4 linked regions of the Homo sapiens genome follow. The protein of the gene in region 4 interacts with the protein of the main gene of each other region in a pairwise test. Each region holds a gene or a part of one and is shown on either strand. Other genes may lie near its edges. The genes, in order: FAM177A1, SMIM12, BAAT and SH3GLB1.

Evidence for each region.
Region 1: the proteins of SH3GLB1 (region 4) and FAM177A1 interact in binary tests that used the Homo sapiens proteins (3 or more experiments, as listed by UniProt).
Region 2: the proteins of SH3GLB1 (region 4) and SMIM12 interact in binary tests that used the Homo sapiens proteins (3 or more experiments, as listed by UniProt).
Region 3: the proteins of SH3GLB1 (region 4) and BAAT interact in binary tests that used the Homo sapiens proteins (3 or more experiments, as listed by UniProt).

Annotation. Positions count from the first base shown.
Region 1 is NC_000014.9:35,077,244-35,083,878, forward strand, and holds the end of FAM177A1 (protein FAM177A1 isoform 1 precursor), read left to right. Parts: intron 1-1,683; coding exon 1,684-1,781; intron 1,782-3,778; coding exon 3,779-3,985; 3' UTR 3,986-6,135; downstream 6,136-6,635.
Region 2 is NC_000001.11:34,856,741-34,864,360, forward strand, and holds the start of SMIM12 (small integral membrane protein 12), read right to left. Parts: upstream 3,010-7,620; 5' UTR 2,937-3,009; exon of another isoform or gene 739-2,936; coding exon of another isoform or gene 711-738; exon of another isoform or gene 630-710; coding exon of another isoform or gene 446-629; intron 1-445.
Region 3 is NC_000009.12:101,375,002-101,382,029, forward strand, and holds part of BAAT (bile acid-CoA:amino acid N-acyltransferase), read right to left. Parts: intron 1-7,028. UniProt on the Homo sapiens protein: Catalyzes the amidation of bile acids (BAs) with the amino acids taurine and glycine. More than 95% of the BAs are N-acyl amidates with glycine and taurine.
Region 4 is NC_000001.11:86,714,576-86,721,603, reverse strand, and holds part of SH3GLB1 (endophilin-B1), read right to left. Parts: intron 5,881-7,028; coding exon 5,739-5,880; intron 2,098-5,738; coding exon 1,969-2,097; intron 1-1,968. UniProt on the Homo sapiens protein: May be required for normal outer mitochondrial membrane dynamics. Required for coatomer-mediated retrograde transport in certain cells. May recruit other proteins to membranes with high curvature. May promote membrane fusion.

The sequences.
Region 1 (6,635 bases), on a different chromosome or scaffold from region 4:
TAATTGCTGTAACATGCTTCAGCAACAGGAACTTTGCTAAATAGGATGTTTCCAAACTGAAGGAGAAACAATAGGGAGTTAATCACTGTCCTCAAGAGCTAGCTAGCATTGGGAGATAGTAACCTAACTTGTACTTCACATTAAAACATTCTTCAGCTTCCAATATAGTTTATTTTTTGAGGAATGAAAAATGACTATGTTAGTTTAGATATGGTTTTCAAGTTCTTTTTTTTTTTTTTTTTTTTTTTTTGAGACGGAGTCTCGCTCTGTCGCCCAGGCCGGACTGCGGACTGCAGTGGCACAATCTTGGCTCACTGCAAGCTCCGCTTCCCGGGTTCACGCCATTCGCCTGCCTCAGCCTCCCGAGCAGCTGGGACCACAGGCGCCCGCCACCGCGCCCGGCTAATTTTTTGTATTTTTAGTAGAGACGGGGTTTCACCTTGTTGGCCAGGATGGTCTCGATCTCCTGACCTCATGATCCACCCGCCTCGGCCTCCCAAAGTGCTGGGACCACAGGCGTGAGCCACCGCGCCCGGCCTCAAGTTCTTAAACCCTTTCTCTTAACAGCTATTTTGCTGCTTTGTCATTTGGTTTCCAATTGATAACATTCTCAATCTGTCTCACTGCTTATTCTAAAGCCTGTATTATAGTTAATTTATATTTCTATTTCATTAATATTCCATTTCTTAAATTGAGATGTGACTAAGTCATATTTGAAGGAAATGAATTATCAACTTATAACTTAATAATGCTAATTTAAAATATAGGTTTTAAATTATGAAGCTTTCTTCTGCTTCCATTTTTAACTCCCTCATAGCTTTTTATCACTTTCTGCATTTTATTAGAGCTAATTGTGAATAGTAATTGATTCAACAAACATTTACTGAGCACTGAATATATGCTAGACAGGTTGGTGTAATGGAAAGAGCATGAGCTTGAGATTCAGACCTAGCTTTGAACTTTGGATCTGCCTTATCAGTTTGGGTTAAGTTCTTTAACCTCTCTACGCCTAACCTTTCACAGTACCTGGCACATGGTAGGCACTCAGTGAGTATTATACTACAAGCCATTCCCCTCCTCCAGCCCAGTGATATCCCAGCTTTCTGAGTATACATTTTTCTTTTTTGAGACAGAGTCTTGCTCTTTCATCAAGGCTGGAGTGCAGTGGTGTGATCTTGTCTCACCGTAACCTCCACCTCCCAGTTTCAAGCTATTCTCTTGCCTCAGCCTCCTGAGTAGCTGGGATTACAGGTGCCCACCACCATGCCCAGCTAATTTTTGTATTTTTAGTAGAGATGAGGTTTCATCATGTTGTTCAAGCTGGTCTTGAAGTCCTGACCTCATGTGATTTGCCTGCCTCAGCCTCCCAAAGTGCTGGGATTATAGACATGAGCCGCCATGCCTGGCAGTATACACTTTTCTTAAAGACATAGATATATAACAGATACACCTAGTGATAAGTATTCTAATACAGACATGAAAAGACTTGTTGGGAGTTTTGAAGCCACCGGTACTTCTTGAAGAAAATCAGGGAAGATATACAGAAGATAGATCTATTAGGTTTTTATAATCTCCTTGAGAGCAGGAACAGTAACTCTTGTATTCCTACAGTGTCTTACACATAGAAAGTGCTCAAGAAATGTTTATAGAATTATATAAGTCTTTTAACTTTTGTATTTTCAGTGTGTGACTTCCTTGGAGAGAAGATTGCATCTGTTTTGGGTATCAGCACCCCAAAGTACCAATATGCCATTGATGAATATTATCGGATGAAGAAGGAGGTATGCCTCCTTTTTACATTTTCTTGATTCAGTTTGGTTTGCTATGGACTTGATGGGTTGCATAATGAGCCTATGTATTTTCTAACTGCCCAACATGTAGCTCTCTTATGCTAGGCATTTCATTCTAGAATCATTAATTTCTTTTATCAAAGTAACATACATTTTGGAATTCCTTTAAACTGGAATTTTCCTATGATCTGTGTGCAAAACTAAGCTAGATTTCATTGTCTTAGTGCTATGTGAGATGCCTTATATACATTATTTAATCTTCACATGCCTCTCTTTGGATTATCATTCTAATTCTAAGATGAAGAAACAAGATACTTAGAGCACATGGACTGGATATAGGAAAAGTGGAGTGGGTTTGGCACAGATAAAAATTTAAGTACAAGAAATGTGTATGTGCCAGGTGTTAATGCACAAAAATTTGAGGGCAGTTTAAAAGTAGTGAGGTCTTAAGGTGAGAGTGAAGTGAATTTTGTCTTAAAAAATAAAAGCCTTTAGTGCTTAAGAGCATGGGCTCAAGAACCAAAGGGCTTGAATTCAAAATCCGTTCTACCACTTAAAACTTTGTAACCTTGGACAGAACACTTAACCCCTCTATAAGCCTCAATCTCCTCATCTTTGTAATGAGGAGAATTGCAGCATCCATGCTCGGGGGCTGCTCTACAGATTAAATACATTAATATATAAAATGTTTAGAACAGCACCTAGTGAGCACAACAAATATTGGCATCTGCTATTCTTCAAGCAAATAGAGGGCAGCAATTCAGGTAAAGCTAGAATGTAGAGGCATGAAGGTACATTGTTATGGTTGGGGAAATGGCAAAAATATAATAGTTTATTGTCACTGGAGCATAAGGTACAATGTGGGAGTGACTGGACATGAGCCTGGAAAGGTCAGCTGACTTAATATTTGTCATATGGTTTCAAACCTGTTTTATGAACAAATAAGTATTTCTTAACACTGTAAGCCTTGCTTAGAGCCTCATTACCTCATCTGGGCTATTATACTAGCCTCCTAAATGGTCTCTATTCTCAAGCAAGCCCCAGAGTAATCTTCTGGGGTTACTCACTGTGTACTGACTACCCGTTCTGCAGGGTCCAATACAAATGCCACCTACTCAATGAATTTAGTAGTTCTGCAACTAGAAATTATTTACCCTTTCAAAATCTGTACATCTGTCATAATACTGTTTTTACATGTCTTAACTTCCCTACTAAGTTGTAAACTTCTTGAGGGTAGGTGCTGCCTTATCTATGTATTTGATGCTTATGGGAAAACTAACTATGCTATATATCATGTAGTAAATGAACCAACCTATTCAACCGAATAGACTGACACCCTACAATTGAAGTGATACAGTTGAAGCTAACTTTTTATTTATTTAGCTTAGACTTAATCTGAAAAAAATAAAGTCCTTGTCAAAGTTAATTCAGGTCTCATCTACGTGATGTAGTGCTGGACCCTGTTTTAAAAAGTAACCTCTTTTGGGCTGAGCGCGGTGGCTCATGCCTGTAATCCCAACACTTTGGGAGGCCGAGGTGGGTGGATCACTTGTGGTCAGGAGTTCGAGACCAGCCTGGCCAACATGGTGAAACCCTGTCTTTACTAAAAATACAAAAATTAGCTGGGCGTGGTGGCAGGTGCTTGTAGTCCCAGCTACTCAGGAGGCTGAGGCAGGAGAATTGCTTGAGCCTGGGAGATGGAGGTTGCAGTGAGCCACTGCACTCCAGCCTGGGTGACAGAGCAATACTCTTTCTCAAAAAAAACAAACAACAAGAAAAAACTACTTTCCTTAAAATGTTTTACAGTGGTTATTTCAATTAGAGAGCAGGAGAAGGGAAAGTATGTCTTAATTAGACCAAACTGATTTGAACATGACACTTTTTTTTTTTTTTTTTTTTAAACATAAGCTGACAGTGGGGAAAACAGCACTATATACCTTTTGGACTTTCGTATTTCAACTATTCTTGATATTGCTCCTTTTTTTTAGGAAGAAGAAGAAGAAGAAGAAAACAGGATGTCTGAAGAAGCAGAAAAACAATATCAACAGAATAAATTGCAGACTGATTCCATTGTTCAGACAGATCAACCAGAGACAGTGATATCCAGCTCATTTGTGAATGTCAATTTTGAAATGGAGGGAGACAGTGAAGTAATTATGGAAAGCAAGCAAAATCCAGTCTCTGTCCCACCATAAAATGAAATGACTATCAAGCTTCAAACTCTTAAGTTTTTTTTTTTTAATACAAAAACTTTCACATTCTTTATTCAGTGGGACTTAATACAATTATTTATATTTTAAATTATTAAAGTATCTGGAAAGGGAAAATGTTTTCTTCATTTTTAGGATCTATCTAGCAAAAGCCAGATCTGAAATTCAGATATTTGTACTGTTTTTACTGTGTATAGAAATTAGTGCTTTGGTTTTAAAATGATCTTTTAAAAAAGTTAAGGACATCCTAGAGCCTTAATAGTTAAGAAGAGTTAAATTATCAAGCCTATTTGTGCATTTGCTTTTTTTGAAAAAGGTAAGTTGCTGATTAAGTCTAATTGGAATTGATAATTCCATAGTCTTAGATTAAAATGAGGATATTTTCTCCTAGATTTTCTCATGTTATGCCATGCATTTATATATCTAACCATTAATTTCACACTAAGGATGCTTCACCATATAATAAAAGGAGCAAGATGGAAGCACTTTGAATTTTCTTTCATTGAGAATAACTGTTTTATGTAAGAATCTGTATTTATAACACCAGATATTAAGATAGGCTTCCATTTTTTAATGCAAGCCACTTACTTAATCTTGTATTCTTTTTCAGGACTCAAATAACTAGCTTTGAACATAATATTAAAACACTACTTATAGAATAGATTTATTAATGTTAATACCTAGTGAATATCCATGTGGCATCCTGGTTATGTTATCGGTTCAGCGTTAATCCTATAGAAAAGTGGTTTGGAGGGGATTGGGGGATAGTGGGACAGGTATAGATTTAATCCATCAGGAGCAATTAGATATTGTATAAGGTGCAATGATAGCCTAATGAAATTACCCGTCATTCATCATTTAGAAGTAGCAACAGTGAAGACTGGACAGTTTACTTGAATCTGGTTGGCCACTCCTCTACCTACTTGGTTATTTGTAAACCTTACAAATGTATATATTGTGAAGCTAATTTTGAAAATATTCCTAAATATGGCCAGGTACGGTGCTCACACCTGTAATCCCAGCACTTTGGGAGGCTGAAGTGGGCAGATTACTTGAGGTCAGGAGTTTGAGACCAGCCTGGCCAACGTAGTGAAACCCCGTCTCTACAAAAATACAAAAATTAGCCAGGCGTGGTGGTGCACGTCTGTAATCCCAGCTGCTCGGGAGGCTGAGGCAGGAGAATCACTTGAACCAGGGAGGTGGAGGTTGCAGTGAGCCAAGATTGCACCACTGCACTCCAGCCTGGGCGACAGAGTGAGACTCCATCTTGGGGGGAAAAAAGTATATATATATACACACACACAGACACACACACACACACATATATCTCTAAATGTGTGTATAGAACCTTTTATCAGTATAACATTGATTTATAATTAAATGTGGGTGAGGAAGAATGTGTGGAGTGTTTCAGAAATTTTGATCTTAAAAGCCTTTTCAGAAACTCAAAGCTTTCAGAAATTAATAGTTATATTAATAGCCTTCTAAACAGCATTAAGTTTTCAATTTTAATATATCTATATAAAATATAGTGTCAAAGAAAGTAACATCAATATAGTGGGTCTGTAATGGAAATCTGTCAATGAACATGAACTGAGTTCTTCAACTACAGGTTGAAGGATAATTAAACTTTTCATTAGGAGTGTTCAGCTACATGGATTCATGGAATGGTGGTTCATAGTAAGTGATGGTAATCTTTTTATTCATGGGTGTAAACCCTTTATAACTTAGTGCTTAAAATATTAATCTTTTGATTATATAATGTCCCATGAATTATAGTTTACCAATAGTTCTAAAACATGCTAACCTGACCTTTTCCTTCTAATTTGTTTTTAACTTCATTCGAGATAGTACCTCTCACTCACAGATATTTATTTGGTTATCAAGTGAAGATAGGTGTGTCTAAAAGTGATCTTCTGAATCCTGTCTCCCTAGAGGTACTAGTATCTAGAGTTTACCCAGAAAATTTTATGATTGTAACAAAAGGAAGTAGTGACTTATGAAGGTTTTGTTTCTTGAATTTTACTTTTGCTACTTGTCCAATAGTGGCTAGTTTATGTTTATCAATATAGTTATTCACTGTGCCTTAAGTTTATACTTTGTTTATGCAAACTATAAAATTTCCCATAAATGTATTCAATGGTTTGTCTTACTTTAAGCCTCTTTCACTCACTTTTTCCTATCTCCTTTTCAGTCCTTTTAAGAATTCCAGTTCCAGCTGGGCACGGTGGCCCACGCCTGTAGTCCCAGCACTTTGGGAGGCCAAGGTGGGCGGATCACTAGGTCAGGAGTCCGAGACCAACCTGGCCAACATGGTGAATTAGTAGAGATGGATTTCTACTAAAAATACAAAAATTAGCCGGGCATGGTAGCAGGTGCTTGTAATCCTAGCTGCTCGGGAGGCTGAGGCAGGAGAGTCACTTGAGCCTGGGAGGCGGAGGTTGCAGTGAATGGAGTTTGCACCATTGTACTCCAGCCTGGGCGACACAGCAAGACTCGTCTCCAAAAAAAAAAAAAAAAACAGAATTCCAGTTCCTTCTGGATCATAGTTCATATTTACCTTCTTCTAATCTTTCAGCATCTCATAAAAACTAAATGTAATGTATAACTGAAGTCTTTATCCTGAATTAACATA
Region 2 (7,620 bases), about 52 Mb from region 4:
TCATGTAAAGCATAAGGAGCATATTTAAACAGTCAAATACATAATGCATTACCTAATTATTCTGGATTTTAGGTAAATAGATAATGGTTTTATCCTGTTCTGAACCTGGCTTTTCTAACAATGGAACAAACCTATACTTTACAAATCTGCTGACTAAACCATTTTCAAAATATCCTATCTTGGCTAAAGACGGTGGCTCACACCTGTAATTCCAGAACTTTGGGAGGCTTGTAATCCCCATTACTCAGGAGGCTGAGGCAGGAGAATCACTTGAACCTGGGAGGCGGAGGTTGCAGTGAGCTAAGATCAAGCCACTGCACTCCAGCCTGGGCGGCAGAACGAAACTCCGTCTCAAGAAAAAAAAAAAAATCCTATCTTCAACCAAACCCATACCTTCATATTTACATAAAAAGCTCCTGAAAATATCACAAATCATTATACATACTCTGGATACCGCAGAACCTGAAGATTTTCTGTGAAAAATCACTGTACAAGCCCGGGGGGTGGGGTGGGGTGGGGTGGGGCGGGGAGCGGAGTGGAATGGCCTCAGGGCCTCCTGAATTGAAGTAGGGCAATACCAAAGTAATGTAAAAACACACAAATTGGATCACTCTAATGGCCAATTCCATCTCAAATGATTATTACCATTATCAATTATCAAAGATCATTCACAGTTATAATAACACAGCTACCATTTATTGAGCACTTACATGCCAGGCCTTGGGCTAGGTGCTTCATATACACTCACTCTCTTAATCCTCATGTCCACCACGTGAGGTAGATACATAACCCACTATCAGAGGGTTAAGAGACTTGCCCAAAAGTATCCACTAAAAGATCTTTCTGTTTATGCCCCTGTAGGTATTTCTCCAACACTACTATCTCTGATCTAAAGTGAACAATCGAAACCTCACCAAGGATAAGATGATTCTCCCCCTCTCTCTTTGGTTCCAATTCTCTTTGAAGGAATCCCAATGTTCTCTAGACGTAACACTATAAGGCAGCGGTCCCCAATCTATATTTGGCACCAGGGACCAGTTTCGTGGAAGACAATTTTTCCACAGATGGGGGTTGGAGAGGGATGGTTTCGGGATGAAACTGTTCCAGCTCAGATCATCAGGCATTAGATTCTCATAAGGGGCACACAACGTAGATCCCTCACATGCGCAGTTCACAATAGAGTTTGCACTCCTGTGAGAATCTAATGCCGCTGCTGATCTATCAGAAGGTGGAGCTCAGGCGGTAATGCTTGCCAGCTTGCCCACCGCTCACCTCCTGCTGTGCAGCCCAGTTTCTAATGGGCTGAAGACCACCACTGGTCTGTGGCCCAGGGGGTTAAGGACCCCTGCAATAAGGCAGCATCATGAAATTTAAAAAAAAAAAAAAAATTGCAGCATCTCCAAGACTCCCCCGCTTATTGTCTCAGCACCAGGCACTATGATGACAATTTACACACTAATCATCATTTGATCCTCATAACACCTCTATGATGTAGGAATTATTAGCCCAGACTCTTGTGAAGGCCACAAAGGCTCACAGACATTATGTTAACTTATCCAAGATCACTAGAAGTGATAGAGCCACTGATTTTGAACCCAGGCCTCTCCAATTTCAAAGCCTACACTCTTTCTAGTGGGAAGAACACACTGCAGAGGTATACGGTTTCTGTCCAAACCCTGGACTTAGGGAGAGCTTCCTACAGTTTTTTCCCATCAGCCTGGCATTTCATTACCTAGAAGAGCTTTCCTTTTCCCAAACTCTGAGATTGTACTCAGGGATTTATGAAATTCAGAGACATAGTAATAGTTAAAAGAGGCACCTCTGAAGAATCCCAAACCTAATACTTCTCCATTTTACTTCCACCTTTAAAGCAAGTCCTCTGTATAAGTAAATGCTTCCCTAAATAGCAACTGTCCGTTCAGATTTCCAAACCTGTCTTAAAACATATCGCGCATGAGTTCACAACTATCTCTCACATGCAGCATAAAGTCTCTCGCTACCGTCCTGCTCACATTCTAATCATTCCCAAATAAGTCAATTCATTCCTTTATTCGACACTTATAACCACTTACTCTGTGTCAGGCACGATGCTGGCTTACCCTGTCTGCGTTTCTCAAGACACTTTAAGCTCCAAAAGGCTAAGAACCGTGTCTGTCTGGCCCAATTATGCCCTATCCATCCAGGCACCTCTCCTACCCTGCCTGGCAGAGTGCCCAAAAAAGGTCTGCTGAACGAATGAATGACAGCCCAAACTCCCTAGTGTAAAATCACAACATCCTCCACCCACTCTCCCCCAAAAGGTGGCAGGAGCATAACAGATGCCTTTGCTGATTACAAAAACCTAAAGACTCCATCATAGTCGTCCCCAGGCAGGGTATCACAATGAAAGAGGCAAAAGTGTCTGAAAAACACTGTGACGCATATTTCCAGCCCGGCATGGAGGACGTCTGCCAAAAGCATCCGGTAAAGGTCAACTGGGCTGCTGGGAAACCTGCCCCAGTGCGAGGGCCCGGAGGCCCAACGAGGCCAGAAGCCGTAGTCCCAAATTCAAGAACTACTAACAAGGACACAGGAGGCCTGAGAAGGCGGAAGAATTAGCCCTGACAGTCACTAGAGCGCAGTCCAGGAATGGGAGCGCAAGTAAGGCGAAGGTCCATCCAAATGGCTACCCTTCTCCCTTCTGTGAGTCTCCCGGTCCCCTGTCCCTAGCCCACCTCATTCATGGCCTCATCAACGTCCGTCCTCATTGAGGTGCCGAGAAGCCCTGTCTGCGGAGGGCTACCTGGGCTCCCAGACTTGGCACCAGAACACCCGCCAGAGAGGGGAGCTGGCAGATCTGGCCGGGACCGGGGTGGACCCTAGCGATCACTCCTCCCGTAACTCAGAGGTTACTGGCCTGGGCTGACCCGACCTGCTCGCCGGGACCGCGCGCTCACCTGCGGCCCAGCCCACACTCCCCAGTGCGGCCCCCGCTCTCCGCCCGCTCGCCGGGAGCACGGAAGTCGCCGCACCCAGCGGCCCGCGGGACCTTGCCCTGTGACCCTGCCCACTGGCCGCCGGCTCTCTCGGAGCGCAGGGATTGGCTGAACTTCAGCCAAAGGACGGAAGGAAGCTAGGCGTCCGCAACTGGGCCCCACTGCGCTGAAATGGACGTCGCGCCCTCTGTTGGCCGGGAGGTTTCTCAGTGATGTCGCCACGTGTTTTCTGCGTGGAAAAAGTGAAAGATCATCCAGTCATTTTTTTCAACTGATGTTTATTAGGCGTCTTCTAAGACCTAGGTCTGGGCACGCAAAAACAAAAGACATGATCCCTGACCTCAAGAAGCTCTTCTTAGAAGAGTATATTTTAGTGCTTTAAGACCTCTTGGGATCCGGGCTAGCTTTCTAGTGACCTTGGGAACATTATTAACCTGTCTGAGCCTCCCTTCCCCTTCTGTGTAGAGGTAATAACACCCATTTCGCAAGGATGGTGTGAGGGTTGGAAGAGATAATATTTGTAAAGTACTGTGGCAGGCACACAGCCAGCAGGGAAATAAATGTGGCTATTGTTAGTGTAAAAATAATTCAAATATAGTAAAACCTAAGTCTTACATGACCTCTTGGGTACAAGTATTCACTTCCTCCTCTGTGTCCCCACTGTACCCTATACAGACATCAATTTTATCATATACAGAAAAGTCCCAAAGCTCAAGCTTGTTAATGCTCCCACAAGGCCCTTCCCACCCTCATCCCACTAATCTCAGCCTGCATATTTATTTTGCTCGCACATACTAAACCCGGCAGACCACACTGTTTCACACCTCAGTGCCTTATTGATGCTTTTTCATCTACCTTCCCACCTTTTTTGTTGTTGTTGTTCAATTTCACTCTTGTTGCCTGGGCTGGAGTGCAATGGCGTGATCTCGGCTCACCGCAACCTCCGCCTCCCAGGTTCAAGTGATTCCCCTGCCTCAGCCTCCTGAGTAGCTGGGATCACAGGCATGCACCACCACGCCCGGCTAATTTTGTATTTTTAATAGAGAAGGGGTTTCTCCATGTTGGGGAAGCTGGTCTCGAACTCCCGACCTCAGGTGATCTGCCCGCATCGGCCTCCCAAAGTGCTGGGATTACAGGCGTGAGCCACTGCGCCTGGCCGCTTTTTTTTTTTTTTTTAACAGGACTCTCGCTCTGTTGCCCAGGCTAGAGTGCAGTGGCACAATCATAGCTCACTGCAGCCTCAACCTCCTGGGCTCAAGTGATCCTCCCACTTCAGCCTTCCGAGTAGCTGGGACCACAGATGCACACCACCAGGCCTGGCTAATTTTTGTACTTTTTGTAGAGACTGGGTTTCACCATGTTGCTAGGGCTGGTCTCGAACTCCTGAGCTCAAGCAATCCGCCCGCCTCAGCCTCCCAAAGTGCTGGGATTACAGGCATGAGCCACCGTGCCTGGCCATGTAGTGCCCTTCCCACCTTTCTTTACTATGCCAGATTGTGCTCTGGCACAATTTTCAAGCTTAAGGGTCACCTCCAGAGGAAGCCTCATACATAGACTGCTTATCACATTAGACACCCTTCCTCTATTATCTCAAACAGCTCAAAGCTAAGCTCTGGCAGTGAAGATGGAGAAAAGGGAACAGTATTGTAGGGGCCAAGGTTCACTGAAAATCAACTGACAAAAGGCAGATTAATAGGAGAAAAGACATACAAAATTTTATTTTAACGTGCATAGCACGGGGCGGGGAGGCGAGGGGGTGGGAAGGGAAGGGTCACAGGAGAATGATTACCCAATAACCCAATGGGGTACAGAAGCGTATACACTCTTTTTCATAGGGGAAGGGGAGAGATGGAGAATATAGACAATTCTTCTGAGGGCAGCAAGTGATTCTTAGGGCGAAAAAATGGACAGAAATTAACTTGTAAATGATTCTCTTTAGAATTTGAATGAGCCCGAGAAACAGGCATCATCTTGTGAAAAATCCATCCAGGCGTAGTTGCCTTCCTCAGTCTTCTTTTCTGAGCTAGATGAGATTTCGGAGAGGGGAGGAAGGCAATTTTGTTTCTTTTGGAAAGACGTTTTCTCGATCAGATTAGGAAATTCTAGAGAGAGTGCCTCCCTATACTTGGGAGAGAAGGTTAGAGGGACCTTGATTCTGAGGCAGCTTCGAAGGCCTCTCAGCATGTCAAAGCGCCAGTCTTTGGGGTATCGCTTTCTGAGCCCCAACAGTACAAATAAATATTTAGGAGACCGTTGTTAGCAGAACCTGCTCACTAACTGAATATGTGGAGAGGAGAAGGGAACAGAACTGTCCAGAGTAACTGGCATTTGGTCAGCCAATCATGTGCTAGGCAATGGGGATGCAAAAATGACTGGGACCAACCTGCCTCCAGAGTTCTCTGACTAAAGAAACAGATGGGTCTACAAAATGTCAATAGAATGTAAGAAATGTGATGACAGAAGTATACACACGCAGCACAGAGGAGGATCTTCAGCCCAGCCAGGAAGATTCAGGGAAGGCTCCCTAGAGGAACCAAGCCTTGAGCTGAGTCTTGAGTCATGGCTAGCAGTTCCCTCAAGCAGAATTGCTGAGGGGCTCAGGAGCATAGACTGAGAAATCAGATAGCCATGGGTTCAAATCCTGACTCTTGTCTGCTTATCTCAGAAAAGCTATTTACACTCTTTGTTTTTAAAAAAAGACAATAATAGTACCCACTCCTAGGGTTGCTATGAGTATTAAATCACCTAAATGTGTATAAAGTGCTTGGCATAGTAGTTTGCACCTTCTCAGTGCTCAGTAAATGGTTATTGACATGTTAAGTATTTCCCAACTGTATTGCTCCTTCTGTAATGTCCTATGTCCATTCGTGGCATTACTCATTCATTAAGCCAGAAATCTGAGTGACACCTTCAAGGCGTCCCATCTTTACATTATTCTCCAGATCCAGCTTACTGCACTTATGCCTCCTAAATGTCTCTCAAAGTCAACATCATTATCTCTTACCTGGACCACTTTAGCAGCTCCCTGAATGGTCTCCCTGCTGTCTTGTTGCCCCATCCAGTCCATTTCCTTTCTTTTGGCCGTAGTTTCATCTTTCAAATAAAACTATGAGGTTTCCATCTTAGCCTCCCACCCCCAACTCTATGGGTCCCTTCTGGCCGTATCTCCTCCACGCCCTCCACAGCCACCATAACCTGTCACCCTCTCCAGCCTATGCTTTCATTCCCAACACACATGTGCTTCCATGGCTTTGCCCAGGTTGGTCCCTTGGCCAGAAATGAATTTCTCCCTTCTCTTCCTTGACTACAAAATGCTAATTCATCCTGCAAGATCCAACTCACAAGGCAGAAGGCTTTCCCAGACTGCCTGTGCTATGGTTGTACCCTCCAAAACTTACACTGAAATTTGTCATTGTATTAAGAGGTGGGACCTTTAAGAGGTTATTAGGCCATGAGGGCTGCACTCTCATGGGTGGATTGACACCCTTATAAAAGGGCAAGTTCAACTCCCTCTTGCCCTCTCTTGCCCTCTCACCTGCCATGGGATGACACAGCAAGAAGGCCCTCACAAGTTGCCAGCCCCTTGACACTGAATTCCCCAGCACCCAGAACTGTGAGCCAATAAATACCTGTTCATTATAAGTTATCCAGTCTGTGGTATTGTTATAGCAGCACAAAATGGACTAAAACACCCTGGTTGCTAGAGGCTCTCTCCTCTCAATCCCTTGGCCCCTCTGGGAGAACAGGTTTCCCTTTGCACCATAACTTTCTGTTTATATGCTGGCCATGGCCAGACTGTAAGCAACTCAAGCAAAAGGACTGGACCTAATCTTTCACTATCTATGGGGCTCAGCATAACTACCTAGGCCACAAGAACCAAAGGAGACTCATCCACACCAGACATGGAAAACTCTATGAATAAAGTCATAGACCCATAAAATGCTGTATAAATGTAAAGGTTAAACTCAGACTCAGCCACTTCCTGGCTTCATGGTTTGAGGTAAGCTGTTTAAACCTCTCCAAGCCCATTTCCTCATCTGTAAATGGGGGTGAAAACAATATCTGTTTTACAGCATTGCTCTGAGTTCAAACCTCACCCATGCCCCCAATTTTAGAGATGATAAAACAACCTCAGAGAGGTAAACTGACCCAGCCCTTCTACTGGAGACCTTTGGACAGTCATCCAATTTAAGTCTTCCCAAAGCTGGCTGCTCAGAATCTTGTGAAGCACTTGTTAAAACCTTATTCGAGGGCAGAGTCTATTCACTAAGTCTTGGACCAGGCCCAGGAGTCTGTATGGGATCACCTCCAAACGGACTGCTTTTGGGAATTCAGATCACATTAGAGTTCTCCTCACCTTCCAGGCTCATGTGTGTACGTGGACCATCTCTTGCTTTTCCAAAGTTGTCTACCAAACCAGTCTATAAAACGTTCATGCCACTCCTCTGTTCAAAACCCTTCTATGGCTCCCTACAGCCCACAAGACCCAGGCCACCTGCCTCAATGAGACCCAAACACTGATATAATCAAGTCTCTGTGCTCCCAATGTCTCTTCCTCTTCCAAGCCTTTGCACAGCTGTTCCCTGATCTTGGAACATTCTTCCCAGCCCTGGCCCTCCTTCAGCAGCTAATCTCTAATCATCTT
Region 3 (7,028 bases), on a different chromosome or scaffold from region 4:
GTTTGGCTGTGTTCCCAACCAAATCTTAACCTTGAATTGTAATAATCCCCACATGTTAAGGGCAGGGCCAGGTGGAAATAAATGAATCACGGGAGTTGTTCCCCCCCATACTGTTCTCATGGTAGTGAATAAGTCTCACAAGAACTGATGGTTTTATACATGGGAGTTCCCTGCACAAGCTCTTTTGCCTGACACCATGTAAGACATGACTTTGCTTCTCCTTTGTCTTCTGCTATGATTGTGAGGCCTCTCCAGCCATGTGAAACTTTGAGTCCATTAAACCTCTTTCCTTTATAAATTACCTACTCTCAGGTATGTCTTTATTAGCAGTGTGTGAACAGACTAATACAGTTACAAAGCAGCTTCCTCCTTTGTTGTTTGTCAGAGTGGCTCTTTGTTCCTTCAGGATCCTAAACTTCTCATTCAAAGTCATCTCTGTCTGTTTTCCAGCACAATTTATGTCAATTGTAGGGTTCCACTTTAGGAACTTTCGTTATGTCAGATTGCTTCCATTTTGTTAAAAATGAAGATACAGCAGTATGAATTAATCCTGATTTCTGTGTTAGGCATTGCACTGCTCCAGGATTGTCCAAAGATAGAGTCAAAATTCCTCCGTTTGTGGTGAAAGTGAGACAGCCAGTGGGAAGGAGTCCATGGAAAAACTCCAACCGCGGGCGAACTGGGAGGAATGCACACTGGGGTGCCACCGAAGTTTCTGCTATTTGCAGTAGGGAGGAGCCTGGCCCCTCCTCTTCCTGTGTGGAACCTTGGATTCAAATGGCGAGGCAGGGAGCGCACTAGCTGCGATTCCGGCTTTGCCGAAAGTAACTGTTCCCCCTTTTCTCCTTTTTGCCCAATAAGTTCCATTTTTCTCACTCCGCAAATTGTGAGCCTAAATTTTTGTGGCCGTGGGACAAGGACCACATCTTTAGCTGAACTAAAAAGAAGTCCTGCAACAAAAATCTGCCATTGATGAGTTCTCTTTCCGACTACGTTATCCAGCAGTTGCTGTTGTGTTCAACTGGGTCTGAACCTTCACGTCTCTTCTGAAATGAAAAGTTGCCTGACGCATGTGTTTCTGATGGCTTAATTTATTTCCATTCTTGGTAAAATTGGCTGGAATGTTTTTTTTTTCTGTTTAGCTGGTTAGGTCCCTTGAGAACTGCAACTGGTTTTTTTCTGCACTTCATATTTGTCCCAGAAGGTTTGCCTTCCTTTTTAACACTAGAAAATATCGTTCTATATTCCTGTCACCTAGAGACGGATGATTCATAGGATTAATTTCTTTGTGAATTCCAGTTGCTTTCCTAGATGCAAGGCCAGTGATAACTCCATAAAGCTGTCTCTTTCCAGGCATTACTCATCCTCTGTGCTCAGACTAGTCTTACCAAAGCCAGAATTCTGTTGAATTCTCCATCATATGCTCATCCTGAATTGCCAGGCTCCAGTTAGAAAATTATGCTTCTTTCCTCCCTGTCAATTTAGTTTGATGATATCATCCAAAGACATACCAATTTTGTTGAGATTTTCATTGTTGCGGGCTTTCAGTGGCAGCAATGGGGTCACCCTGCCTCCCACCAACCAGGTACCAAAATGGTTCATGGCTGGGGATGCCTCACTAGAACAGTCAGCAGAGAAGGCCACAGTTGGAGGCCTGCCACCTCCCACTCACGCACAAAGACTAGCTGCATTGTTGGAGGCCTGCCACCTCCCACTCGTGCACAAAGACTAGGAGCATGTAGGCATGCTGGCCCGGTTTAGTGGTATTTTAAAGATTGTTTCAAAATGAATGGAAGAAATGATATAGATACAAATAAATAGATCTAAAAGTTAGAGAAAGAGAAACATAGAAAGCAATTTTGTAAGAGGGCATTAATGGGCATTAGGTAGATTCCATGTCTTTGAAACTGTGAAAAGCTATTGTGAATAGTGCTGCAATGAACTTTCATATGCATGTGTCTTTATGGTAGAGTGATTTATTTATATTCCTTTGGATAGAGAAAAGCTTTATGGAATTCTTGTGTGGTCAAAAGCTGAGTGAGAGTCAATGAAATCATTCATAAAATTTTATTAAAATTAGCTTTACTATTGATAATACTCTAATACAAAGCAAAATTTAGTTTTCTCTTTTGAACAAGATTTTTGGATAGTATTAATGAGAGATAATAAAATTTTTGTTTACCTTTTGAGTCTTAATACAACACTATCAAATGTTGGGTGGACCAAAGGGAGTCCCTGCTGGTTCCCCAACATTAAAGAGCCCCAAATCAGTTTTCTATATTTACACCAGATTGGGGAAGTTTCAAAAATCAGAAGGCAAAAATTACAATGAGAAAGCTGATTAATAATTTCCTGGGGCAATGTGGAGACAGACTAATCAGATAAAGATTGACAAAAAGGCCCACATCCCTTGGCTCAACTCCTTGCTGGGAACCCAGAGGTTTTTTCACAAGAGAGGGTAAAATGGTCTGGGGGTGGAGTACAGAAGTTCCTGAGACTAGAGCATAAAATATAAGGATTGATAGGATTATAAAAGCTAAAATGTTTACAACACCCCTTCATGCTAAAAACTCTCAGTAAACTAGATATTGATGGAACATATCTCAAAATAATAAGAGCTATTTATGACAAACCCATAGCCAATATCATAATGAATGGGCAAACCTGGAAGCATTCCCTTTGAAAACCAGCACAAGACAAGGATGTCCTCTCTCACCTCTCCTATTCAACAAAGTATTGGAAGTTCTAGCCAGGGCAATAAGGCAAGAGAAAGAAATAAGGGGTATTCAAATAGGAAGAGAGGAAGACAAATTGTCTCTGTTTGCAGATGACATGATTCTATATTTAGAGAACCCCATCATCTCAGTCTAAAAACTCCTTAAGCTGATAAGCAACTTCAGCAAAGTCTCAGGATACAAAATCAATGTGCAAAAATCACAAGCATTACTATACCAATATTAGACAAGCAGAGAGCCAAAACGTGAGTGAACTCCCAATCACAACTGCTACAAAGAGAATAAAATACATAGGAATACAGCTTACAAGGGAAGTGAAGGACCTCTTCAAGGAGAACTACAAACCACTGCTCAAGGAAATAAGAGAGGACATAAACAAATGGAAAAATAATTCCATGCTCATTGATAGGAAGAAGTGATACTGTGAAAATGGCCATACTGCCCAAAGTAATTTATAAATTCAATACTATTCACAGAACTAGAAAAAACTACTTTAAATTTCATATGGAACCAAAAAAGAGCCCATATAGTCAAGACAATCCTAAGCAAAAAGAACAACACTGGAGGCATCATGCTACCTGACTTCAAACTATACTACAAGGCTACAGTAAACAAAACAGCATGGTACTGGTACCAAAACAGATATATAGACCAATGGAACAGAACAGAGGCCTCAGAAATAACACTACACATCTACAACCATCTGATCTTTGACAAACCTGACAAAAACAAGCAACAGAGAAAGGATTCCCTATTTAATAAACGGTCCTGGGAAAACTGGCTAGCCATATGCAGAAAATGGAAACTAGACTTCTTCCTTACACCTTATACAAAAATTAACTCAAGATGGATTAAAGACTTAAATGTAAAACCTAAAACTATAAAAACCCTAGAAGAAAACCTAAGCAATACCATTCAGGACATAGGCACAGGCAAAGATTTCATGACTAAAACACCAAAAGCAATTTCACCAGAAGCCAAAATTGACAAATGGGATCTAATTAAACTAAAGAGCTTCTGTTCAGCAAAAGAAACTATCATCAGAGTGAACAGGCAACCTACAGAATGAAAGAAAATGTTTGCAGTCTATCCATCTGACAAAGGGCTAACATCCAGAATCTACAAGGAACTTAAACAAATTTACAAGAAAAAAACAAACTGCCTCATCAAAAAGTGGGTGAAGGATATAAACAGACACTTCTCAAAAGAAGACATTTATGCAGCCAACAAACATATTTAAAAAAAGCTCATCATCACTGGTCATTAGAGAAATGCAAATCAAAACCACAATGAGATAATATCTCATGCCAGTTAGAATGGTGATCATTAAAAAGTCAAGAAACAACAGATGCTGGAGAGGATGTGGAGAAATAGGAACAGTTGTACACTGTTGGTGGGAGTGTAAATTACTTCAACCATTGTAGAAGACAGTATGGTGATTCCTCAAGGATCTAAAACCAGAAATACCATTGTTAGGAGGTCTCCAACTCCTGACCTCAGGTGATCCGCCTGCCTCAGCCTCCCAAAGTGCTGGGATTACAGGCGTGAGCCACCGCATCCGGCGAATGTCGCATTTTGACATGCCCAGGAACCTCCAGTTATTTGGAAATCTTTAGAAGAATTCACCCAATTTATACAGCTATTGCAGCCTGATGGCAAATCCCTGGCTTTGTTAGCCTCAAGGCTTTAAAAAAATCTGAGATTCTTTATTTAAAAGTTCCAAAAAAGCCAATTTTACAAGAACCTATATGGCCAATCACTATTCTTGCTGCACTTTATGCAAATAATCAGGTCAAGCATAATGAGACTAAAATTCATTTTGCAAATAAATTGGTCCTACAATAATTTATCCTTGGTAGAAATAGAGAAACTTAGAAAAAAATTGTTTCAGAAGAAAACTATTGTACACCCATGATTAGATTCTAGTCTTAACCATTGTTTTTATTACTTGCCTACAATTTGGACTAAATCCTAAATTATTTTGTGGCTACAAGAAGTCTCTAAAGACAAACCCGGTTTTAATTTTCTTCATGTTGTTTTTAGTTGGCTCCCTAATGGAATAGGTTCTTTTTTGTTGTTGTTGTTCTGGCATACAAATTCTGTTTTTGATTGTAGTCCCTTGTGTGCATATTAATGTTATTTATCTCTCATTGTTTTACTTCATCCAAGAAAATCAAAATCATGGTACTCCAAAGACTAGAGATGATTCAAGAAAGCCTATGCATTTTTTCTCATCTGAAATCCCACTGGGCCTGATCTGTTTCCCATTGCCAGTGCACTGCTGCTAAAGCTGTACAATATCAAGCACCCTTCCTCTAAACTCAAAGACCATTGAAGAAGAGGACAGTGTGTGAGATTCTAAAAGCCCAATTAGAAAGCTGGAGTGTGGAGGTTATAGCAACTCCATCTTGAATTCTAATCTGCCAGTTGACATCTGATTAATCCCACTTCTAGGAATGCCTTTAAGATTTCTGCCTTATCTACTATCTCTTGTATAAGAGCACCTACCATAAATCCTACCCTTAGGCAAATTCCTACATATTCCTGCTGAAGCATGTATATCCTTTCCCTATGGTATATCAACCCTGGGTCTGGGGAGTAACAGTGAGGGGATCCTTTGTCTCACAGCTGCCTGAGACACAGCTTCTGTTTGTAAGCCCCTATTAAATGTTTCTCTCTGAGAAACTGTTTTGTCACTCTCTTTGTTCAGTGTCTCAGCTCCCTTGGCCTTTGGGGGTAGGTTTGCACAGACCTGCTCACTTACCACAGAGCAAGCTTACTCACAGCATGGTGGCTGGGTTGGAAGGGCAAGCAACACAAGAGAGAAAAAGCTAGGTAGAAGCTGTATCCTTTTTATATCCTAGCACTGGAAATCACATAGCATAATCTCTGCCATTTAATAGCAGCCACAAGCTCCCATCAAAATTCAAGTGGAGAAAATGTTGATACCTATTAACAGTAGGAGATATGTCAATCACATTGTAAAATTTTTTTAAGTGGATGAAACGTGTATGTGTATTTGCTTTTTATTTTTTAAGATGGAGTCTTGCTCTGTCGCCCAGGCTGGAGTGCAGTGGTGCAATCTTGGCTCACTGCAATCTCCACTTCCCAGTTCAAGTGATTCTCCTGCCTCAGCCTCCCGAGTAGCTGGGATTACAGGCACCCACCACCATGCCTGGCCAATTTTTTTGTGTTTTTTTAGTAGAGATGGGGTTTCAGCATGTTGGTCAGGCTGGTCTCAAACTCCTGACCTCAAATGATCCGCCTGCCTCAGCCTCCCAAAGTGCTGGGATTACAGGCATGAGCCACCGCACCTGGCTGTGTGTGTGTATTTGTATGTGTATTTGTGTATACATTTTTGGGAAATGCAATCTGCCACAAGAGGAAAGGAGGAATAAAGGAGCAAATAATAAATGGGATGAATGGAAATGGGAGTTTAAACCCACACATATCAATAATTACGTTAAATACAAACAGATCAAACACTCCAATTAGAAGACACAGGCCAGGCGTGGTGACTCATGCCTGTAATCCTAGCACTTTGGGAGGCTGAGGTATGAGGACCGGTTGATCCCAGGAGGTTGAGACCAGCCTGGGCAACATAGTGAGATCCCATCTCTACAAAAAAAAAGTAAAAATTAGCTGGGTGTGGTGGGGCAAACTTGTAGTCCCAGCTGCTTGAGAGGCTGAGGCAGAAGAATTGCTTGAGCCCAAGAGGTCAAGGATGCAGTGAGCTGTGATCATGCCACTGGGTGAAAGAGCTGACTCCACCTTGGGTGAAAGAGCTGAAATCCTATCTCTAAAATAAATACATACATAAAAATAAAAAAGAAGACAGATTGTCAAACTAATTGAAAAAGCAAGTGGTTATTTTTCAGAAACACATTGTCAAAAAAAGACAGATTGAAAGTAAAAGAAAATATATGCAACAGTGTTTGTGTTGCATATATGTGTATATATAGATGAGAGATGAGACAGACACAGACATAAATACATGCTGACAAGAATGAGCCTACAGAGAGAGAAGTCCTGAGAATGATAATTCAGTGGTGAGTAAACATTGAATATGTTTCCTGAGAAGCTTAAAAATAAGTGATACTATAGCTTCCAAGTACCGTATTTCATTTGTTTTCTTGTAATCAAGAAATTGAGTACTTAAGATCATACAGAAATACATGAGAGTCAGAAATGGAATCTACATTTCCAACTCTTAGTCAAATTGATTAGTACTTCAAAAAGAATTTATCAAGAGTCTACATGTCATAGTCACTGACAGATAAGATGCAGTTCCTA
Region 4 (7,028 bases):
AAATAGGGCAAGTACAGTACAAAGTAGAGTAGAAAGAAAGGAAGCCCCAAGATCAGGGTTCCACTCCTAGTTTTACTTCTAATAAGCTTTAGCTCTAAGGATCTTAATCCCTTCATGTTAGGATAAGCTTTGATCTGACTGATAAGGAAGGTAATACAGATAGTAGTTAAGAGCTCCGTCACTGGATACAGACAGATCTTCATTTGAATTACTATACTAGCTGTGACTGTGGATTAATTATTTAACTTCTCCAAACCTGTTTCCTTGTCTTTAAAATGAAGGTAATATAATTTATCTTAAAAGCAGGATATAAATGAGAATTAATATGTAAATATATATACTATATAATGCTTAGCCCATGCCTGTGATACTCAATTTTTAGTATTAATTACTAATAAGGTAATAGGTTCACAAAGCCCAATTCTAATAACCAGGGTACATTCACTAGAATTACTAGAGGTGCAAACAGATTAAGCAGATTTAAAAGGGAAGAAAATCTAGAAGCCTTTACTAATGTTCATGCTCTGCTAAAACCTTCTTCAGCCTGGTGAAGGAAGGGGCTGCTGGGTTCCTTTCACATACCTTTATGATCCCAGCATCTAACTGAGCTTGGCACAAGTAGGCAATAAAACATCTGTTTAATGTATAACATTTTTCTAAAAATTAACAGTAAAATTCAGAAATAATTTTATTTTGAAGTTCTAAGCATTTTCAAACTTAAAAATTAGATTTTGAAGAACACAATGTAGAAGTTTCAAAGTTGTGTACCTAAAAAAGCCTGTCAATGGATTAGTGGCATTCAACAATATTTAGGTTATTTCTTTCTGACATAAAGATAACTACTAAAGCTTAAAATTCATTTAATCCTAGAATTTATAAACCATTCTGTAAATCAGAACTATGTGTAGAAATTAATTTAATCTACCTACCATTTCATATCCAAAGACCAGTATCTTGCAGATGTATAAAGAGAATTATTATTAGACATAAACAACAGGAAAAGAAGCTACTGAAATCTGTAACAGTCTCATGTTATGAGAAAATTAGAGTGACAATAAAGATGTGTATGTAACTTTGAGCTTCAGGGCTATACATTTAAAGTCTGTACAGCAACTAATAAAGCGAGTGTAACTAAACCACGGCTATAGAAAATTTGAAATACATAAGAGAAAAACAGAAATGAAATGTAATCCAAATATCCAGAGATAACAATTGTTAATATTTTTTGGTTACTGACATTACTGCAAAATTATAACAAAAGCACTGATTTGTTCAAGAACTACGTGCCAAGTACCTTTAACATAAAATAAGCCCTAAGAAAGCTTTTTTAAAAATGAAGAGACATATGCAAACAATAATTGCAATATCACAAGTATTATAACATAGGTATTGTAAGATCACTGGGAGAACAAGTGAAGAATTCATTAAACTTTTTAGAACTAAAAAAGATGTGAATTCTCTGAATAACTAAATATATGCTTGAATATATTAAATATTACATTTAACTGTATATATTTGCCTATATTTCTCACTTCATCAAAAATTTTTAACATAAATTTGAAGTTAAAACCAATTCTACTACTATGTTTTTTTTTTTTTTTTTTTTTTGAGACAGAGTCTCGTTCTGTGGCCCAGGCTGGAGTGCAGTGGTGTGATCTTGGCTCACTGCAAGCTCCACGTCCAAGGTTCACGCCATTCTCCTGCCTCAGCCTCCCAAGTAGCTGGGACTACAGGTGTCTGCCACCACACCCAGCTAATTTTTTGTTATTTTTAGTAGAGACGGGGTTTCACCATGTTAGCCAGGATAGTCTCGATCTCCTGACCTCATGATCCGCCCACCTCAACCACCCAAAGTGCTGGGATTACAGGTGTGAGCCACTGCACCCGGCCTACTAATATGTTAATGACATCTCTAATAAATCTAAACATAAAGATATCCCTTATTAGAACTTTTTGCATTTCACTTACCATAAGCTGTTCCTGGGCCAAACTCAGTCCCTGCATCAATCATATATTGTCCCAAAAGTTCTGGGTTGTTTATACGACTTGGAGCTTTTCTATCCAGTTTCTCATAAACAAATTCTTCTATCCTGGCATCTAGGAGAAAGGTTAAAATTACCAATGATTTCTAAAAAGCAAAACTAATTAGAAGATTGTTTTTTTCCCCCATCAGCAGCCATTTATCATCTCCTAAAGTTAGCATTCATTCAAGCACATATCTTAATAAATAATTTTTTAAATTTTATGTTAGACTATTATATAACTAAAAAATTATATTTTAGAAATTTGATAAAATATCTTGGCACAAAAGCATTTTAAAATAAAATAAAATTATTATTTGAGTATTCTACAAGATTTTAAGTTCCAGAAAAGGACTGATTAATTCACTTAATATTTATTGAAGGTGTCTTTGCCCTGTTTGTAGCATTTTAACTCTAATTTTTACTCTGAATGTACATTCATAATTTCAAAATCAGGATTTCTGGCTAGGAAAATACAGATATAAAGTACCTGGAAGAACCAAAGACTTACATCTGACAGCTTTAGCATGAGCATTTGCTCTCTCTTTTTCTTGCCTAGAGTCTAAATATAGACACAGGCGCTTAAGGCATAGAACAATCCAGGCTTGGAATAGTCTACAGACAGATCAGCAATATGATGCCTTGGCTTTAGTTTATGTTTAAAGTATACAAGTATATCTCTGAGCATGCATTCACTCAAAAGATTTCATCATTAAAAATAAGTTTAAAATACGAAAGGTTAAAGCAATAATAGAACATTAGAATAAATGGAAAGGGGAAAAAAACAAAAGCTGAATAAACACTTGGTTAGCAAAATGCTTAAGACCAAAGATATTAACATTTACAATGCTGTCCAACCTAGAGGTATTTCAGGACAAGTGAAAAAATGGCTTAAGTTTCCAGAAACAACGATTAAGCATAAATTGAAGCTAAGTCAAATAGGTTCCCTCTAAGTACCTCACATAGATTCCTACGCATGCGGAAGTTTCACACAGTGCACTGAAAATTTAAAAAATGAGCTGAACCAGTAACAGAAACATTTCAGGAGTTGGTAAAAGGCTTAGTTATAATACATAAAATAGAGTATAGCAATGATACTTGCTTTTGTGGTAGATTCTAGTACAAAATCAGAAGTTTTAAAGCAGAAATTAAATACCTTTAAATAGTTAAAACCAAAAAGAGCTTTTTAAAACATAACCATTTAGAAGATACTAGTTAAATTTCAGAACTTCATTTTGGCCCGGTGTGGTGGTACATGCCTGTAATCCCAGCACTTTGGGAGGCCAAGGCAGGTAGACCACTTGATGTCAGGAGTTTGAGACCAGCCTGGCTGACATGGTGAAACCCCGTCTCTACTAAAAAAAAAAATACAAAAATTAGCTAGGTGTGGTAGCGCATGCCTGTAATCCCAACTACTCGGGAAGCTGAGGCAGGACAATCACTTGAACCCAGGAGGCAGATCTTGCAGTAAGCAGAGATTGTGCCACTGCACTCCAGCCCAGGTGAAAGAGTGAGACTCTGTCTCAAAAAAAAAAAAAAACAGCTTTGTGTTTTGACTCTGATTCTTAATTTTGACTGCTTTTCCACCTATCTGGCCAAAAGTTTAAAATGGAATCTTATGCTGACTTCGTTCAGTTAATAAAATATTTGGAATACTAATAAATGTTTAATTTCAATAGGTTATAATAAAATCTTAAATATGCAGGCAACTCTGCTACAATGTAATATGTATTTCTGCATAACGTATTTTTGAAAAACCCATTTCCAGAAGATCATACATTGAAAACAACATAGGAATTACAAGAAAAGGAGTGTTAGGTTTGGCTGCTCAAAACCTATGTAACTTAATAACCAGAGCACAGGCTGGGCATGGTGGCTCACACGTGTAATCCCAGCGCTTTGGGAGGCTGAGGCGGGCAGATTACCTGAGGTCGGGAGTTCGAGACCAGCCTGGCCAACATGGAGAAACCCTGTCTCTACTAAAAATACAAAAATTAGCCGGGTATGGTGGTGGACACCTGTAATCCCAGCTACTCTCAGCAGGCAGAGGCAGGAAAATCGCTTGAACCCAGGAGGTGGAGGTTGCAGTGAACCAAGATCACACCACTGCACTCCAGCCTGGGTGACACAGCAAGACTCTGTCTCAAACAAAACAAAACAAAACAAAACAAAAAAACCACAGCACAAACAAAAAACAAAAACAATTATTACGACTTCCTGGCACAAAACAGGGGCAGGAGGAAATTGTATTTTATTTCCCTGTTTACCAGTTGTGAATGAGCTTATTTCCCATTCAGAAAAATATGTTTAGAACAAGGGGAAAAATGTCTATTACTTTTAATAAAAGTGCCAGAGTGTAGAATTTAAATGGCCTTAAATGAATAAAAAATATTACATGGTGTCCAAAGACATTAGGACTCACTCAAAGTGCAAAAAGCTTATTTTATTTCCAACTTTTATTTTAGTTCAAGGAGTACACATGCAGATTTGCTACCTGGGTATACTGAATGATGCTGAAGTTTGGGGTACACATGAACCTGTTACCCAGGTACTGAGCACAGAACTCAACAGTTAAGTTTTTCAACCAAAAGGTGTATTTAAAAAGTCACTACTATTTAACTAAAATGATAGAGAACTGCTAATATTTATATAGTGCTTGAAGTTTAAGTTAGTATCTAAAAGTAAGCATATGTCATATCACAACTTGGTCCCAAACAAGTTGGGGAAAAAAGAAGGAAAGCATACATTGTACCTTTGTTCTTCAGTTTTGATATGCAAAGCTCACAGTGAAAAGACTGGATGTTCATACACCCGGTTCTAGTCCAATTTCCACTTCTAATTAGCTATGCTACATTTGACAAGATGCTAACTCATGAGTTTCATTCACTAAACAATTATGCACCTTAACTGCAAGATTATTGAGTTGACTTATCTGAAAATCTCATAGTTGTCTGAAGATGAAATGAAATAATTTATGTGAAAATGTAAAACTTAAACATAGGCGGGGCGCAGTGGCTTATGGCTGTCATCCCAGTACTTTGGGAGGCCGAGGCAGGTGGATCACGAGGTCAGGAGTTCGAGACTAGGCTGGACAACATGGTGAAACCCTATCTCTACTAAAGACACACACACAAAAAAAAATTAGCTGGGCGTGGTGGCACATGCCTGTAATCCCAGCTACTTGGGAGGCTGAGGCAGAAGAATTGCTTCAACCTGGGAGGTGGAGGTTGCAGTGAGCCAAGATCACACCATTGCACTCCAGCATGGGCGACAGGGCGAGACTCTGTCTCAAAAAACAAACAAACAAACAAACAAACAAACAAAAAAACACACCAAAAACTTAAACATAAAAAATGGTACCTACTTAAGCAACTATATAACTTTGTCTTAATTATCTAGGGACAATTCTTCCCTAGATGAAAAAGGAAAACATATTTATATACACAGCTGCTCATAAATTAAAATTCAAAGTCACTGCCTAAAATTGAGATTTTTTACAAGGATTCTATAAAAGACTGAAAAATATCATTTTAAAATTGGTTAGGTACATAGCTGTTTATCACTTCCTCTTCACAAAAGCACACACAAAAAAACCCACTGACCTTGAAGCTACAATAAAAAAATCCTATGTTTTCAGATGGCCATTAAAACTTTTTTTTTTAACATTTAAAAACCCACTAATAGTACTTAAGGTACACAAGAGGTAGAGTTTCTTACTTGGATTTGGCTGCAATAACACTTCAGTTTGTTTCATTATTTTTTCTGTCCATATTTTGGTACATTCAGCTTTGCTAAGGAGGTTCTCTAAGTGAGCATCCAATTCTGTCTTCTCAGCCTGGCCAAGCTTTTCTTCTGTGAACTGTTATTGATTGTAAAACAAAAATTAAATATACTGCAAATAAATTTTAGGGAACCATATCAATAAGTAAAAAGCAAATTCAAAGCTAAACAATCCTAAACATACAAATAACCATGCTCCAGCTTTGTAAGCCATTGCTTATGAATACTTTTTTTTGCTCCTATGGTAATTTATCCATACTTCTTTTGTGGATGACCCTACCTTACAGTCATCACATACCCTTAGTTCTGCTAAAATGTATGGTGTGAATTCTACAGAAAACCTAAGTATACTTCTTGGTATATAAAGCATGCAACTATTTCAACTACCTATCCTAGGTAGACTAGGATAACGGTAAAGAGTAAGAGCTTTGAGTCAGTTGAATCTGAATTCAAATCTTAACTTTGTTCCTTGCTGTGTGAGCTGAGCAATGTATTGAATATTTTTTCTTTAGTACCCTCTATTATAAAAGAGAGACAATACATATTTTATAGTGTTTGGGGGATTAAGTATGATTGTGTATGCAAATCACTTTGTTTGGTGCCTTGTAATTATTAAGTTTTGAAAGAGCTGTTAATGTTTATTGTGGTTTATGTCTTATTAGCACTTTAATCACACCTAGTTAGATAAATAGTTTCCCAGAACATACCATAAAACCTGTCATTTAAGCTGCTGAGGATATGTTCCAGCAATTTATTTATAGACTAACTTTTGGAACATATCCTATTCATACTATGAAGACATCTTTTAAAGGTCATAAAATGTGGTTAAACGTACTCAATGAATCAATTTTTATTATTGAATATACTGGTATTTGAGAAAAGGTAGCACTGCCTATATAATAATAAAGCAGTAAAAAGATTCTGTGTAGATCTACAGCCTTCTGGATACTTTTAATTAAACATTAGAGGTGATGACTCAAGCTGTTTATCATGCATCATTTTCCTCTAGAATATGTGGCTTCCTCCCATCTTAACACAGGTATATCACTAGCATTAATTCTGTGCTCAGTAATGACTCACTTCTGGCTGACAAAACAGTGTTCACCTTGCCTTTCTCTCCTTTCGTTTCTCAAAAATCTCGTTTGCTACTCTATTTTCTGAGTTTTATTGTTTCTTTCAGCATCCTTCTTCTTGGTTTAATACTTTCAGGTTATTATCAACACCTTA